4 separate regions of the Homo sapiens genome follow, and all the other regions are linked to region 1. The links come from fine-mapping of genetic effects on gene expression. A gene starts in region 1. Each other region holds a variant in brackets. All regions are shown on one strand. Distances are between the middles of the regions. Region 1 holds the start of AOPEP (aminopeptidase O (putative)). Region 2 overlaps AOPEP (aminopeptidase O (putative)). Region 3 overlaps AOPEP (aminopeptidase O (putative)). Region 4 overlaps AOPEP (aminopeptidase O (putative)).

The links. PIP is the estimated chance that this variant, and not a neighbour inherited with it, causes the effect. A credible set is the group of variants that fine-mapping cannot tell apart.
Region 2: its variant is the best candidate, but not a certain one, in a credible set for the expression of AOPEP in whole blood (INTERVAL, PIP 0.59).
Region 3: its variant is the best candidate, but not a certain one, in a credible set for the expression of AOPEP in fibroblasts (GTEx, PIP 0.68).
Region 4: its variant is the best candidate, but not a certain one, in a credible set for the expression of AOPEP in whole blood (INTERVAL, PIP 0.82).

What each region holds. Positions count from the first base shown.
Region 1 is chr9:94,724,579-94,728,745 of GRCh38, reverse strand. It overlaps AOPEP (aminopeptidase O (putative)), which reads right to left and starts at 2,047. Exons shown (of 17, transcript NM_001193329.3): 1 at 1,995-2,047. RefSeq lists enhancers at 1,776-2,255, 1,778-2,320, 2,266-2,435.
Region 2 is chr9:94,763,280-94,767,446 of GRCh38, reverse strand. The region is part of intron 2 of AOPEP (aminopeptidase O (putative)); the gene reads right to left. Among named protein-coding and RNA genes, the nearest start is that of AOPEP, 39 kb to the right of the region's middle. The variant A/G (reference allele first, on the strand shown) is at 2,209.
Region 3 is chr9:94,878,147-94,882,313 of GRCh38, reverse strand. All of the region lies in intron 5 of AOPEP (aminopeptidase O (putative)), which reads right to left. Among named protein-coding and RNA genes, the nearest start is that of AOPEP-AS1, 65 kb to the left of the region's middle. The variant T/C (reference allele first, on the strand shown) is at 2,177.
Region 4 is chr9:94,752,396-94,756,562 of GRCh38, reverse strand. All of the region lies in intron 1 of AOPEP (aminopeptidase O (putative)), which reads right to left. Among named protein-coding and RNA genes, the nearest start is that of AOPEP, 28 kb to the right of the region's middle. The variant A/G (reference allele first, on the strand shown) is at 1,629.

The sequences.
Region 1 (4,167 bases):
CTGCTCTGGAGATCGTCTTTTGGTGGCCTCTGGGACCTTGCTTCATCAATCATCCAGCCCTCTAAATCCTTGACCTCAGCATCTTCCTGTTTCCAAGCCCTTTCCACCTCACAAATGTGAATGTTCCAGTCTCTTCTTACAGGAAAAACCCACAAATGAACAAAACCCTCCCTTAAGTCCACATCTCCCTCTAACTCTTCTTTATCTCCTCACAGCCAAATTCCTTAGAAGAACTGTCCTCGACCGGGCACAGTGAGGTCAAAAATCTACTCGGCATCCTGAGTGTTTAAGAAGGCAAGAAATTGTGTAGTACATTTTTAAAATTTCCATCTCAAAGAGTCAATAAAATTTTCATTTCTAAAGAAGTATTAAGCTCTCAACTGTAAAATTACCCATTCCCTGAGGACTCCAAACAGCAGGGTTTTACTGCACAATCTTGTTTGCCATTTATCTCATTCTTAAAAATAAGGATGGTGTGTGTGTGTGTGTGTGTGTGTGTGTGTGTGCATGCGCGCACGCAGGAAGGATCACAAATTAAGCTTTCCAGGTGTTTTAACTCCAGGAATATGGGAACTTAACACAGTATTAAAGATATTAAAAAGTGTTAAATCATTTGTGTAGGTGAACAAACTCATAAAATTGTGTGCAACTATTGTAAAAAGCCTAAAATTTGAGCATTAGTAGAGTCCTTTAAGAAAAGTGCAGGCTTTGAAGTTATATTCAGACCTGAATTTAAATCTTGATTTTGCCATTTAGTTAACTGTGAATTTTTAGCAAGTCAATTTCATATAACCGAAACTCAATTTCCTTCTCTATAAATTGGGGGTAATAATTCCTAACTCACGAGGTGGTTGTATGAAGTAAGGAGAAAACATATGCAAAGTGTTGAACACAGTACCTGGGATAAAGCAGATGGGCCAACAGTAAGCAACTATTATTATACCCTAACCTTATTCTACTTTGTCCCCCAAATATTGGAAGAATCTAATCTTCCCAATTAGCAAGTCATTGGAAGGCTTCCCAGACTTATACGAAGCACAATATACACTATTCAAAAATGGAACAGACTAAAAGTATTTTAAAAATACAAAACCAAACAATCAATGAGATCAAGGATTTCAGAATTCTGCTTCTCGTCCCATATACTCAGCATCTATTCTGTCTGGTTTTGTAATAACCCATATTATTTCTTTATCAACCATATGAACCTTATTGTTGTTTTTTTGCGATCTAAACATCCCTAGCGGGTTATGTTACTTATTTTGAGGGCTACCTTTGCAAGGGTAATTGTCATCATTGCACGAAAACCAAAAAGAAATCAGGTACAAGGGGCATTTTATGCAATGCTATTAACTGTTCCATGCATCTCAACAGTGGATTGGATCCTAAGTGGATATTTTATTATCACAATAGATAATCATAATCACATTACTGTGCCACCCCCTCCCCGCCCATGCATGCGTTCATGAACAAAACTCCAGACTAACAGTATGAATGTTCTATAGGGACCCCAAAACTCAAAATGTGGTGCTCTCAGTAAAGATCCTCCGGGGGAAGAAGAGGCGGATGGGTTTCACTGCAAGTGGAAATGAATCGAATCGAAACTGTTCTGCCTACTTAAGACTGGAGATGAGCCCTGTGGGGCTAGAAGCCGAGACCGGCAGGTGACCGAGGGCCTGGAGGCAAGAGACGAAGGAGGAGGCACCCAGAGGCTGAGAAAGGTCTGTGCCGCCGGGGAGAAGACAGCCAGAGCCCGTGGCCACCTCTACAGCTGAGGTGGTAAGATGTGACCGCTCCGCCCAGTCCCCAGGATGGGTTTCAGCCCCAGGAGTCTGGGAGAACTGAGGAGGGGATGCGGGTCCTCGCTGGTCGAGCAAAAGTGAGGGTAAGGGAGGGTTCCCCGTCGCCTTCAGAACGGAATGATGCTGTCCCCGCCGCCATCCCGACGCCGGAGGAGAGGAAGGCAGGGACCCAACAGGGAGCGAACAGGTTACCTGTCTCAGCCGCGTCCCACGGGTCACCACTTCCGCAGACTCGGGGTTACTACGGGCTACCCCGGCACGCGCCGGGTGACGTCATCCACACGCGCCCGGGGCCGCATTCTGCCTGACCCGCCTTCCGCTAGGCCCGCCCCCTTAGGATGAGAGGGCGAGACCGCCCGGGGGAGATCTGCGCAGGCGCGGAGCTGCCGCGGTCATAGGAGGGCGCGAGCAGCTTGGCTGGCTAGGGCTTGTAGAGTTGCCCTGGTACCCTAGTATTCCTAATTGCAAAATCTTTATGAAGCTTAAGAAAAAAATCACCAGCCTGGGCAACCTGGGGAGGCCCCGTCTCTACAAAAAAATTAAAAAATTAGCCGAGTGTGGTGGCGTGCACCTGTGGTCCAGCTACTATGGAGGCTGAGGCAGGAGGATTGCTTAGGTCCAGGAGTTCGAGGCTGCAATGAGCTATGAACGTGCCACTACACTCCACCCTGAGCCACAGAGCAAGACCCTGTTTCAAATAAAATTTAAAAAAAGTTACTGAAATACAGATGTGCAATTTTATTCCTTAGCCTAGTCTCACCTCTGCTGCATGTGACTATTGTTCACATATTAATTCCACCACAATTTAAGGTCCTCCTGTGTGCCAGGCAAGCACCCTTAACAAAAGCTGGGGAAACAACCAGGAACAAGACAGACGCTGTGCCTTCCCTCATGGGGATTACTTTCTAGTTGAGAAAGCAAACATTAAATGTAGAAGGAAAGGCCGGGCGCGGTGGCTCACGCTTGTAATCCCAGCACTTTGGGAGGCCGAGGCAGGCGGATCACAAAGTCAGGAGATCGAGACCATCCTGGCTAACACGGTGAAACCCCGTCTCTACTAAAAATACAAAAAATTAGCCGGGCGAGGTGGTGGGCGCCTGTAGTCCCAGCTACTCGGGAGGCTGAGGCAGGAGAATGGCGGGAACCCCGGGGGGCGGAGCCTGCAGTGAGCCGAGATCGCGCCACTGCACTCCAACCTGGGCGACAGCGAGACTCCATCTCAAAAAAAAAAAAAAAAGTAGAAGGAAAATAAGTTGCTGAGAAATTAAAGGAAGACAGGTGACCTTTTGATTTGAGATGTCAAGAAAGTGCCCTCTGAAGAGGTTCAGTAAACTGAGAAGCAGCCAACTCTGTGGAGAGCTAAGGAAAGAACAGCCAAGAGAAGAATCTACATGTGAGCAAGCAATAGGGAAGGGGCAGAATGTGGTGCCTTGGAGAAAGTGAGAAAGTAGGTCATGGGAAGAACAGAGGATGAGATCAAGAAGGCAAGGAGAGTCCCCATCATGCACAGACTCTCTGGGTTCCTGTGAGGAATACGAGTTTATTCGAAGTGTAAGGGGAAACTAGTGAAGAGTTATCAACACGTAAGTGACAGGATCTAGTTTTATAACATCACCCTGCTAGCTGCTGTGTATACATGAAACTTTTGAGAAACAATTTAAAAGGATGCAAAGAGAAGAGTTGCTTTTGCAATGAGCAGGTAAGAAATGATAGAAATGGACAAATTTCAGGAATAATTCTGAGGTAGATGTGACAGACTTGGAGATGAGTTTAGATAAGGGAGATAAGGAAAAGAAAAGTGTCAAAAATAATTCTTAAATTTGGGGCCTAAGCAAATAGCTGGATCATATAGCTAAAACAAGGTTTGTTTCACCTCCTTTCAAACTTGATTTCTTTGCTTGTTTCCAAGTCAGTCCTCTAGGTTCTCCTGTCACCTATCTTTCCTCAGTTTCTATCACTGGCTTCCACTTTCCCTTTTCCTGAGCTCTTTTTTCCCTTGGCTTTCTTAGGCTCCATCAGAGGCTGCAAACCCCAAAGCCTACAGCAGCCGGGCAGTTAACACAAAGGAGTGAAGCCCAGGGATAGAGACTGTGGTGATCTGGAGCTCGTGGTCCCTACCACAGCTCTGTTGATTTTTGCCAACCAGGAATGCTGACCCGGTGATGTCAGATCCCCTGCTTAAAAGATAATCGAGGGCCGGGTATGGTGACTCACGCCTGTAATCCTAGAACTTTGGGAGACTGAGGCGGGCAGATCACAAGGTCAGGAGTTCAAGACCAGCCTGACCAATAAGGTGAAACCCTGTCTCTACTAAAAATACAAAAATTAGCCGGGCGTGGTGGTGGGTGCCTGTAATCCCAGCTAC
Region 2 (4,167 bases), 39 kb before region 1:
GGGCACTGCGATTTGTTATTTTCTGTAGATGCTTTGTTACTTATTTCTCATTCGGTTGGTTATGTTGGTTACTTGTTGAGACTGATACAGTCCATCCTTGTATTTTCTTCCATGGTGACTCAACTGGGATTCTGGGAAATAGACATATGCACAGCCTGGGCAGCAAAGAGAGAAAGAAGCTAAAACACGACCCTTCCAAGCATTTTCACTCATGATTCCGACTCTGCAGTCATACAATATCATAGAATTAATGTGTATTCCACTTTAGTTCTCATAAATTTTGCATTGGTTTCTTGAAGAAAGTAAGGGGAAAAAAAGGTGCTAATTGTGGAAATGTTCCTCTTAGACCTGAAATCTCTCCCAAAACATCTTCTGCTCATTCTTTTAATTTTAAAACTTTCCTTTAGAGTGAGATATAAAATAATGAAATTAATTCAGTGGGGGGAGGGGGGAGGAAGAACATGTTTTAACATCTGGTTTTGATACTCCAAACTAAAAATACTCCCAAAGTCTACATCTTCCCTGGCCCAATAGCTGAGCAAGAAATATTACAGAAAAAAGTAGTTCTCCTTAGGATTTTGCTAACTTCATCCCAGTCTTGTCTAAAACAAACAAACAAAAAAATCACAATGTTTTACAAAAGTTTAAATGTTAATATTACTTTATCTTATAATGTATTTTCCCAGTTAGCTCTCTTATCTTTAACAAAAATCCAAATAGCTATAGTTTTTCTAATAAATTTCCTATACATAACCGAATTTTCCTCCATTCAATTCAAATTCAGTGATGTCATCAGCTTAAGCTCAGACCTCCTAAACCACTTGACTGCTTCCACAACTATTATAATGATTCTAACGAAAAAGAGAATGGGTTATCAAAGAGAATGCTTCAGTTTGTTTTGTTTTGTTTTGAGATGGAGTCTCGCTCTGTCGCCCAGGCTGGAGTGCAGTGGCGCGATCTCAGCTCACTGCAAGCTCCGCCTCCTGGGTTCACGCCATTCCCCTGCCTCAGCCTCCCAAGTAGCTGGGACAACGGGCGCCCGCCACCACGCCCGGCTAATTTTTTGTATTTTAGTAGAGACGGGGTTTCACCTCATCAGCCAGGATGGTCTCGATCTCCTGACCTTGTGATTCACCCGCCTCGGCCTCCCAAAGTGCTGGGATTACACGCGTGAGCCGCTGCACCGGGCCAATGCTTCAGTTTTAAATAACGTTTTCTTCAGGGGAATAGAAAAAATGTTAAAAATACAAGGAAAATGAAGAAAACACATCAACTTTGAATAAAGGTTTCCATTTTAAAAGTTTATTTCTTACGTATACCAAAGATCTAGAATTAAAAACATATTAAGTCCCATTCCTTTCTTGAAGCTTGGCAAGAACACCTTTACACAACTCTTGACCCTGTCTTTGTTCTCATCAAAATATTTTTAAAGGGCACACAGACCCGCGTACCACAGAAAAGCAAACATCTTTTCCAAGAAGCACATTGTATCTGATTGTTATATATGTATTCCTTCCATCAGTCATTTTAAATGTCACCTACAATCCAGTATCTGAATGATACAGGCAAGAAGCATTTAGGTTCAACAACTGGCACAACTCCCAAATGGCTAAACTAAGGTAGGAAAATTGAGTTTTCTATTTCCAGATATTTCATATTAGAAGTAGAATAATAATGATAAAATTATTGGTAATCATTCATAATAAATACTCCTTTACAGCTTCAAATATGTTTTCTTCTCCAGAGAACCCTGCCACATGGTAAAGTGGGAAAACAGCTCTTACAAAAGAGATTTCAGGGTAGAAATCTCCAAATTTGAAGTTATCTTTTTAATAATTTTTTTTCAAGACGGGGTCTCACTCTGTCGCCCAGGCTGGAGTGCAGTGGCACAAACATGACCCACTGCAGCCTCGACCTCCCTGGGCTCAAGTAATACTCCCACCTCAGCCTCCCAAGTAGCTGTGACTTATTATTATTATTATTATTATTATTATTATTATTATTATTTTTGTAGAGAAGGGGTTTCACCATGTTGCCCAGGCTGGTCTTGAACTCCTCAACTCAAGCTATCCTCCTGCCTCTGTCTTCCAAAGTGCTAGAATTATAGGCATGAGCCACCACATCTGGCATATATTTTTTTATATTAAAACAGTTTTAGATTTTAAAAATTGAAAAGATAAGGCTGGGCGCAGTCAGTGGCTCATGCCT[A/G]TAATCCCAGCACTTTGGGAGGCTGAGGTGGGAGGAATGCTTGGGCCCAGGAGTTCGAGACCAGCCTGGGCAACATAGCAAAACCCTGTCTCTACAAAAAAATACAAAAATTAGCTGGGCGTGGTGCTGCACACCTGTAGTCCCAGCTACTTGGAAGGCTGAGGTGGAAGGATCGTTTCAGCCAAGGAGATTGAGACTACAAATATATTTTCTTCTCCAGAGAACCCTGCCACATGGTAAAGTGAGAAAACAGCTCTTACAAAAGAGATTTCAGGGTAGAAAGAACTTGGTGAGCCAAGTTCATGCCACTGCTCTCCACCCTGGGTGACAGAGTGAGACCCTGTCTTATAAAATAATAATAAAATAAAAACTAAAAATAAAAATCACAAAGATAATATACAGAGTTTCCATATACTCCATACTCAGCTTTCCCTATTACTGGCATCTTATATTAGTATGCTTGTCACAAGGAGTGAACCAATACTGATACATTTACACACTTCATTCAGCTTTCTTTAGTTTTTCCTCAATGTCTTTTTTCTGTTTCAGGATACTACATTACTTTTATTTTATTTATTTTATTTTATTTTTGAGACACAGTCACGCTCTATCACCCAGGCTGGAGTGCAGTAGCACAAAGACAACTGACTGCAGCCTTGACCTTCTGGGCTCAAGTGATCCTCCCACCTCAGCCTCCCAAGTGGCTGGGACTACAGGTGCCTGCCACCATGCCCAGCTAACTTTTTGTATTTTTAGTAAAGATGGGGTTTCGCCATGTTGGCCAGGCTGGTCTCGAACTCCTGGCCTCAAGTGATCTGCCCACCTCGGCCTCCCAAAGTGCTAGGATTACAGGTGTGAGCCACTGCACCCGGCCAGGACACCACATTGCTTTTAATCATCATGTCTCCTCAGGCTCCTCTTGACTGTGGCAGTTTCTTAGACTTTACGCTGACCTTATTCGTTTTCAGAAGTGCTGATCAGGTATTGTGTTTAATGTCCCTTGACTGGGATGTATCTGATGCTTTTCTCATGATTAGATTGGAGTTAAGAGCTTTTGCGAGGAAGACCACAAAGATGCCATTTTCATCATATCATACCAGAGAATAAACTATCCCCATAAATTATCACTATTGATATTGACCTTGATCATCTTGCTGAGGTAGTATTGTCAGATTTCTCTAGTGTAAAGTTACTTCTTTCTCCCTTTCCATTCTGTTCTCTTCGGCAGGGAGTCACTGACTGTATAGTCCACACTTAAGGAGTGAGGAGTTATGCCCCACCTCCTTGAGGACAGAACATGTCCACAACTAACTTGGAATTGTTTTGCACCATGGATTTGTCTATTCTTCCTCATTTGTTTATTTATTCAATCGTTTATTCACATCAGCTGGACTAATGGCTATTTCATACTTTTGGATGTCATTCGAAACTACTTGATATGTTTTGTTGCTTGGCTTGGGGCATGAGGAGCTCTTTCGGACGGCCCCTTGTCCCTCTGGCATACCCCCATCGCTGTGGGTTGTTGTTCCTGCTGTTTGAGGGCTTCCTTACTTTCTGACATTACAAGATGCTCCAGACTCATCTTGTATATTTCCTGCCCCTGTTCTGGACATTTCTCCAAGAAGTCCTAGTTCTCTTCATTGGAAAATGGTATCAGAAACTAAGATCTGGGTGCTAGGTGTGCTTACTTCTAAGACCCTCTCAGCTGACAAGCCAAGATACAGTGTGTGTATACACAAACACACACACACACACTAACCCTTGGAAACACACATATCTGTAATTATTTCCATATGCAACCATCCATATCAATATTAAGCTATTTCATTTTGATACAAGTTTTATTCTCAGCTGGGATACAGTACAGGTGGGAAATGGGGAAGCCACTAATGGAACTTAAAAGAAAAGGTACCAATTTACAGATTTTCTTATATTTGTCTAATTTAAAAAAAGAAATTT
Region 3 (4,167 bases), 150 kb before region 1:
ATTTTAAACAACAGACTAAGAACATGACGAAAGAGGACTGTACTCTGAAATAACCCTGTTTCCTCTCTTTACCCATCTCTACCTAAATAATTTGCTCCACTAATCTTCTAGTCAAATTACCCTTTCACCCTTTAAAGATGACGAAAAAAGAGAAGTTGGACAGATGTCTTACAAAGTAAGAGCTTGTGATCAGCCAGGCCTTCCCGCCATAACCACCTTCACTCCATGTTCTAAAGCTGAGCTTAGAGCCATAGTAAAGGACTCCCTAGCCCAAGGGGAAGTCCTCAAAAATTTACTCATAAGAGCTTACAATCCAGGACTCCCTGACCTTTACCAGTTTATTCACATGATACTGGGACCTGTGGAAGCTTGAAAATGAGTGACAGCTGCAGAATGGAGCCAACCTGAGGAGGGTATTAAAGACCCCTCCAAAACCCCCTCACAGGAATGGCTGAAATAAGCTAGAAACATTGCCAAAATCATTTTAGATTCAATTCCTAAGATTTTTCCACACAAAAAAATTGACTGGTCCACCATACAGACAAAAGAAGTTTCGGACGACAGAACTCACTTAGAAACACTGCTTGTGAAGCATTTGGGGCTCAAAATAACAGCAAGGAATATTTCCTGCAGGAACTGCATCAACTACTCTATTTATAAATGGACTCTGTCCCAAACTTAGCAGTTTAATTAAAAAAACATAAACCTGGATGGGAAGTTACAGACATGACTGAATTGGTGGCCTTAGCTGAACATTTTGAGAGGACTCTGGAGCAAGAAAAAACCCAAAAGACTACCAAGCTTATGTCTCACCAATTACAACAGTTACAGGGGCTGAGACCAAAGGAACCTTCTTTTTTATTTTAAATCACAACCAAGAGATAGATCCTAGAACAAGAAATTCTTTTCCCCGAGATGTCTGCCTTCCTTGCAAATAAGCAGGACACTGGAAAAGAGTTGTCTGCTTCTCTGTTAGTCTACCAATAAGCCTCCTCCCATTAGGCCACACTGTTTCACCACTAAAGGAAGCCTAAGACAGATCCTGTGTCTTAAAAAAAAAAAAAAAATAGAAGCAGCAGCAGCCACCAAGTTGCTACAAGTTTCATCTGAGCTGGTTTTAGGGAATGAACTTAATTTGCAAATTCCACATGCTGTGGAAAGTCTATTAAATTCCAACCAAGCTCAGCATTTTTCAGCAAGAAAACTAACATCTTATGATCTTATGAAATTTTCTCCTGCCTCCTTCTGACCTCCATCTAAAATGCTACTCCATCTAAAACCTACTTAACCCTGCTACTCCATTACCTCTGACTGACTGTGGTAAAGATCACAATTGTGTAGGTGTAGTATCCAAACTAGTAGCCCCTTGTGTTGATTTATGAGATGCTCCATTGGATAATCCTGAGTTGATACTTTTTGTTCGTGGGTCCTATGCCAAAGTCTCAGAAGGAAAATATCAGGCAGGGTATGTTGTTACTGCCCAAAATGAGTTAATAGAGAAGGGAACTCTTCCTCAATTTAAGTCCGCTCAGCTGGCAGAGCTTTTTGCTCCCACCCAAGCTTGTCATATAGTTAAGGACACGTCAGTAAATATTTAAAAAGATAGCAGATATGCTTTTAGAGTAGTACACAATTTTGGCACATTATGGAAACAATGGGACCAGGTGCGATGGCTCATGCCTGTAATCCCAACACTTTGGGATGCCAAGGCAGGCAGACTGCTTGAGCCCAGAAGTTCAAAACCAGCCTGGGCAACATGGCAAAACCCCTTCTCTACAAATTATCTTGGCATGGTGACTTGCGCCTGTAGTCCCAGCTACTCTGGGGGCTGAGGTGGGAGGATGGGTTGAGCCTGGGAGGTCGACGCTGCAGTGAGCCATGGTCACGCCATGGCACTCCAGCCTGGGCAACAGAGAGAGACCCTGTCTAAAAAAAAAAAAAGAAAAGAAAAAAAGAAAAAGAAAAAGAAAAAAAAAGACAAATATGCATAATAAAAATTACATTATTAAAAAATAAACAATAGGGGTTTCTCACTTCTATTGGGACTCCAGTTAGATGAACTCCTTTCAGCTATCCTGTTAACACTGTTATCATCACAGATCGTTATGATTAAGATTGAAGATGATACCTGTAAAACTGAATCTGAATATCAAAGGAATGCCCTAGCCGATGTGCA[T/C]GTTAAATCAGCTAGTGCTGACACTGTGAGAATATGCAATCTGAATGAACTCCATAAGACTGATCCAAATCAACTCCCATACGGTGATCTATTTAATAAACAGTGCAATGCATTTAATTTGGAAAAACAAAGTTGGTATCTAAAAAAATGTAAATTCAATGTTAAGCGTGGATTCACAAAGGGCCTGACAACCACTTGGTCCTTCCTGAGTCTTTAAAGCTTCCGTTGTTAAAAGGCCTGCACTCCACAACTCATCATGGAACACACAAAATGATCCAAATTATAAAAAAAATTGGTGAGGTATATGTTCCAAAACTGCTAAAATGGGTTACAACCAATGTTTGATTTACCAAACTCATAATCCGAGGAAAACAATAAAAACTTCAGATAGTATATTTCCACCATCTGATGGACCATTTGAACATTTACAAATGGACTTTATTCAGTTATCGCCCTTGCTGAGGTATCAGTTTTTGTAATAGTTTGTATGTTTTCTGGTCAAATCGAGTCTTTCTTTGTAGAAAAGCTGGTGCTGTGCCAGCAGCTAAGAAATTATTAGAAAATGTTTTTCCTTTATGGGGTATTCCTGGAGAAATCTCCAGCTATAGATAGGGAAACTCATTTTACTGGGTAAGTTAAAAGCAGTTAAATAAGGTGTTGTGGATGCAGTGATACTACCATTGCCTTTATCACCCTCAGTCTTCTGGAAATGAAACCACACTTGCAAAATTATAACTGAGACAGTGAAAGAGATCTGAGCTAACCAACTCCATCTTGTTTCTAACCTCCAAGCTGTCCTTGTTCATTCCTGCACATATGCTGAACTAACTTTGGGAATTACTTAGTTTATAGTTTAAAACAAAGATGCTAACAACCCTTTCCCAAAACAAACCTCCTTCTTGCCTGGGTACTAGACGGCCTTTTTAGGACTAATAAATTAGCCTGAAGATTAGAAATTGTAGTTTAGGAGTCATACAGCTGGAGGCTACAAGATTCCAACCCTCCCTAAACTGCTCCTAAGATCAGTGCTTGAGATATTTTGCAGACCCTGGATCAGCTGTCACCACCCAGATTGATAAACTGGCTCATCTGATCTTGTGGTCCCCACCCAGGAACTGACTCAGCACAAGAAGACAGCTGAGTTCTTCCACCCACCCAATTACCCTTAAAAACTCTGATCCTCGAATGCTGAGGAAACTGATTTGAGTAATAATAAAACTCCGGTCTCCCACAAAGCCAGCTCTGCGTGAATTACTCTTTCTCTATTGCAATTCCCCTGTCTTGATAAATCAGCTCTGTCTAGGCAGTGGGCAAGGGGAACCCACTGGGCAGTTACAGAAAGGCTGAAAGAACAAATGGTATCTTAAAACTGAAATTGGCAAAGTTAGCTGAGCCAATTGGGTTGTCTTGGCCAAAGGTACTACTGTTGGCATTAAATGGCAATCAGATCCACTCCCACTGGAAAACATAAGTTGGCCCCTTATGAAATAGTCACTGGAAACGTATGCCCCTAATAGTAGAACCTAATGGATGTTCCACTCTCCTAAACTCTGATATGACTAAATAACGCAAGGTTTTAATGCATTATGCCAAAGTGTATTTTTACCAGGTACAGGAAGCTTTTTGTGATCCACTGACTAAGTACAATCAAATCCTTCATGGTCTAGAGCCTGGAAATTGGGTCTTCGGGAAATAACATCAGAGGAAGACTGCCCTTGAACCCTGTTGGAAAGGACCACACCAAGTTCTTCTCACACCCACACCTGTAACCTTGGGTCCACATCTCACAACACAAAAGGGCCCCTTCAGACTCTTAGAACACCTGTTGGAGACTTTAAGGTAAAGCTGACCAGGAATACTTCTCCCCGAAAGTGGACAGCATCCTAGATGCGGACAGCTTTCCCAAGATCACAGATCAAGACTTTTCTGCCATTATGAAAGCCTTGTGCTTTTTGCTTTTTTCCTCTAATCTTTTATCCCAATACTTTCCT
Region 4 (4,167 bases), 28 kb before region 1:
TTTTCTCTTGCCAACATTTTCTCCCCTTCAATGATTACACCCTATTCTGAACATTCAAACATCCCTAGGGTTGCGGGCTCAAGCGATCCTCCTTCCTCAGCCTCCCAAGTAGCTGGGACCATAGGTGCATGCCACCACACTCATCTAACTTTTTAAATTTTTGTAGAGACGAGGTCTTGCCATGTTGCCCAGGCTGGTCTTGAACTCTTCAGCTCAGGCGATCTGCCCACCTCAGCCTCCCAAAGTGCTGGGATTACAGGTGTGAGCCATCACACCTAAGCCAACCTTAGGGTTGCCATCTTTTTTTTTTTTTTTGAGACAGAGTCTTGCTCTGTCACCCAGTGGCACAATCTCAGCTCACTGTAAGCTCCGCCTCCCTGGTTCACGCCATTCTCCTGCCTCAGCCTCCCAAGTAGCTGGGACTACAGGTGCCCGCCACCACACCCGGCTAATTTTTTTGTATTTTTGGTAGAGACAGGGTTTCACCATGTTAGCCAGGATGGTCTTGATCTCCTGACCTCGTGATCTGCCTGCCTCGGCCTCCCAAAGTGCTGGGATCACAGGCGTGAGCCACCCTGCCTGGCCTAGGGTTGCCATCTTTAAAAACAATCAACAACTTCATTTGGCCTACTTTAAGTCATCTTTATTTTATTGAACTTTGGAGCTGAAAAATTCCTTAGGGCTCACTGAATCCAACTCTCTAATTTTACAAATGAAGACAGTGGGTCCCAGAGAGGCAAAGTAATTTGCTCAAGGTCACCCATTTCTTTTTGTTTGCCACTAACAGAACATTTCCCACTTGCTGATGCTTTTCCTTGGAATTCTCATCTCCCAGGTCTCATGGCCATCTCCTTCATATTGTCTAAGTCATAAATCAAATGTCACCTCTAAGTCTCTTTTCCACATCTTCCTTTGACCTTCTTTATCTTCTTCAAGTTATGCAGACTAGTAACCAATTCTTATTGTAATAGCTTTGGGGGGCAAAGGAGAACTTTTAAGCCAGCCCCAGAAGATTCTGAAGAGCACTGTCACTTCTGCATGATTTCCAACCTAAATTATATATAAGTCTATTAAGTTGTTGCTTATTTGTCTATGTCTTACTTGTCTTAGATTCATGGATGACCTAAATCATCTTTCTCTCTGCAAGTACGTAACGCTCACTGACATCAATCAGGGTCACAGCCCCACATTTAGGGAAAAACTGAACTGCCTGTGGTTGCAAATGCATGTATGTGGCCACCTTGCAAGGCCTCTCTCAGCAAATGGAAACCATATTTCTAAGCAGTCCGTTGACTTCAGCACTTTTGGCTATTACTGTGCTCCAATTCAAAATGCCAGCCTGTCTCACTGAAGCATTTTTCCATTCTCTGTCATAAGCCATAACATACAAAGGTCCCCCCTTATAAAAACCAGTGGTTAGTTTTCCAGTGGCTAACCATTGCTGTGTCTAAAATAAGTGTGCTAAAAAAAAAAGAAAAAATAAGTGTGCTATGTGGTATGTATTTTAAATGCTTAAATGATTGTCTCAGCAGCACCATTAAAGGCTTTGAAAGGATTAGCGTACAGTAATATTTTTCTTAAGGGGGAAGAGGATCACATACTAAACAGAGCTATGGCACAAAGAAGAA[A/G]CTGCTCTGCCATTCTCAGCCATCCAAAGTGGAATGCACCCATTTACAAATGTGGGATATAACCTCTGTAACGCCATCCCCAATCACCCCAACGAAAACAATTTCATTCTCCTTTCAAGCTACAAAGCAACGTGTATCCTCACGATTCTAACTTATCCTGGCTCATTTTATAGTTACTTCCATCCTCCAATGCTCTAAAAATTCCCTGTAACTCCTGAATCATTTTTGTGTTCATGACCAGGTTAAGTGGAGTATCCTCAACACAGCAGGTTCTCAATAAATATTTGTGGAATTGCCATCCAAAGGTATTTGTGATTTCAATGTCTAGTTACTTATACAACAGGGATTCTAGCTTGCCTGTACTCTATAGTCTAGTGCTAAGTTATTGCTTAACTAACATCTCCCTCCAGACATCTCATTTTTTCTTCTCAGGATACACCTGTGCCTCTTTTTATGCCTCATCTTTTTACTTGTAAGCAACTGGGGGAAAGGAGAAATTATTTTTGCACATATGCTCATTCTATAGCATAGAGCACACTGTTGAGTAGTTACTATTTAATTCCACCGATTACTTGATCAGAGAATGACAGCTTTCTGCTATTCCAGGTGTGTCCATTATTTAGGATATGCCAATTGCTCTTAATAACAGTCAGTGTATTTGCTGAAATACACTGTTTCTGGGCACAATTCTTCACACACTCAAATGCATATAGTCACAGGAACATAGCTTACTACTGTGAAATTCAATAATTTCAGAATTAGAAGGAAACTTAGAAGTTCAAATATACTGTTTTGTGTTTATAAATGTCACACTGACATATTACTCTGCAACTTCTTTCACTCAATGGTTTTGAAATATAGACATGTTGATGTATATAAATCTGTCTCTTTTAACTGCTGTTTAATGCCCCCACAGGAATATTCTATAATGTATCCATACGTTCCCCTACTGATAGTTATTTGAAAATTTTCTTGATTGCAAACAATGCTGAAATGAGCCTCCTTACGCACATCTCCTAGCTGCACACATGCAAGTAAAAAGATGTGGCATAAAAAGAGGCACAGGTGTATCCTGAGAAGAAAACACGAGATGTCTAGAAATTCCGTTTTGCCTGATGTTAATACTGTCATACCTACTTTCTTTTGGTTTGCTTTTTCCCGGCACATCTTTTCAATCCCTTCATTTTTAACTGCTCTGGACTCTTTTTGCCTTGGCTGTCTTTTTAAAACAACATTTGGCTGGCTATTTAAAAAATATAATTATCATTTTTAATGACTGAAATGAATTTCTTTACATTTATCACAATTACAGTTGTAACAGCACCATCTCAATCAACATATTTTATGTTTTCTATCGCCCATGATTTTCTTTGCTTCTTAGCTTTATTTTTCTGCTTTTTATTGAATTTTTCTACATTCCTGTTTTCCCCTCCACTGTTTCATAACTTACACAATCAATGCCTTTAATATGCCTAAAGTCAATCTCGAATAACCTTCCAAACAATATAAGGACCTTAGAAAGTTTTATAACCAGTCTTCCTCTTCCTTACTCCATAACAGCTTCCATATTATTGTTGCTATTATTTTAGTATCACATTGTTTGTTAAAACTCCATCCAACTTTTTTAAAGTCAATATTTATTTGTATTTACAAATATATTCACCAGCTTCCTTACTCCTGATAATTTATACATTCCACTCCTTCCTTCTGGGTCCAATTTTATTCTACTTGTTGCATGACAAATTAACTTTGTAGCTTCAAACAGCAACCATTTTATTATATTCTATAGGTCATGAATGTGGGTAACAGTCAGCTGGGCCACTCTTCTACATCTTATGAATCTGTCTATGTTACTCAATGGTACTCAGTTGGAGGATGGACTTGTCTGGAGGGTCTGATGCCCAGAAAGGCCGCTTATTTAAACTTACTTAAATAAGTTTATTTAAATAAAGCTTATTTAACACTGAGCTTTTGGAATGGCTGTACATCTTCTATGGTAGCTGGCAGCCCCCAGCACGAGCATCTCAAAGTACCAGTTGAAAACTGCATGGCCTTTTCTGACCGAGCCTCAAAGTCAACATGGTTATTATTGCTACCATAGTCTATTGCTTTCAGGTGCAAACTCATAAGGCCAATCCAGATTCAAGGAGAGGGGATTAGACTCCATCTTTTGATGGGGGAGTAGCAAGGTATACTGTAGAAAAGCATGGAAGATGGTAGATATTGTTATGGCCATTTTTGGAAAATACAATCTGCCACAATTTCCTTTTTACTTAAGTTTATCTTTAGTAATTATTTTAGGAGGAGTCCATGGGTAACAAACTCTTTTAACAGTTGTATGTTTGAAAATGTCTGTATTACATCCTCTCTACTGAATGACCACTTAACTAAGTGTAGAACTTTTGTTGATAGTTATTTTTAATTAACACTTTGAATACAAGATTCCACTGTAACCTGGCATATCTTTTTGCTGATAAGAAAGAATTTTGTTATTAGCATGCATTTACTGATACGTATGTGTTCTTTCTCCCTGGTACAT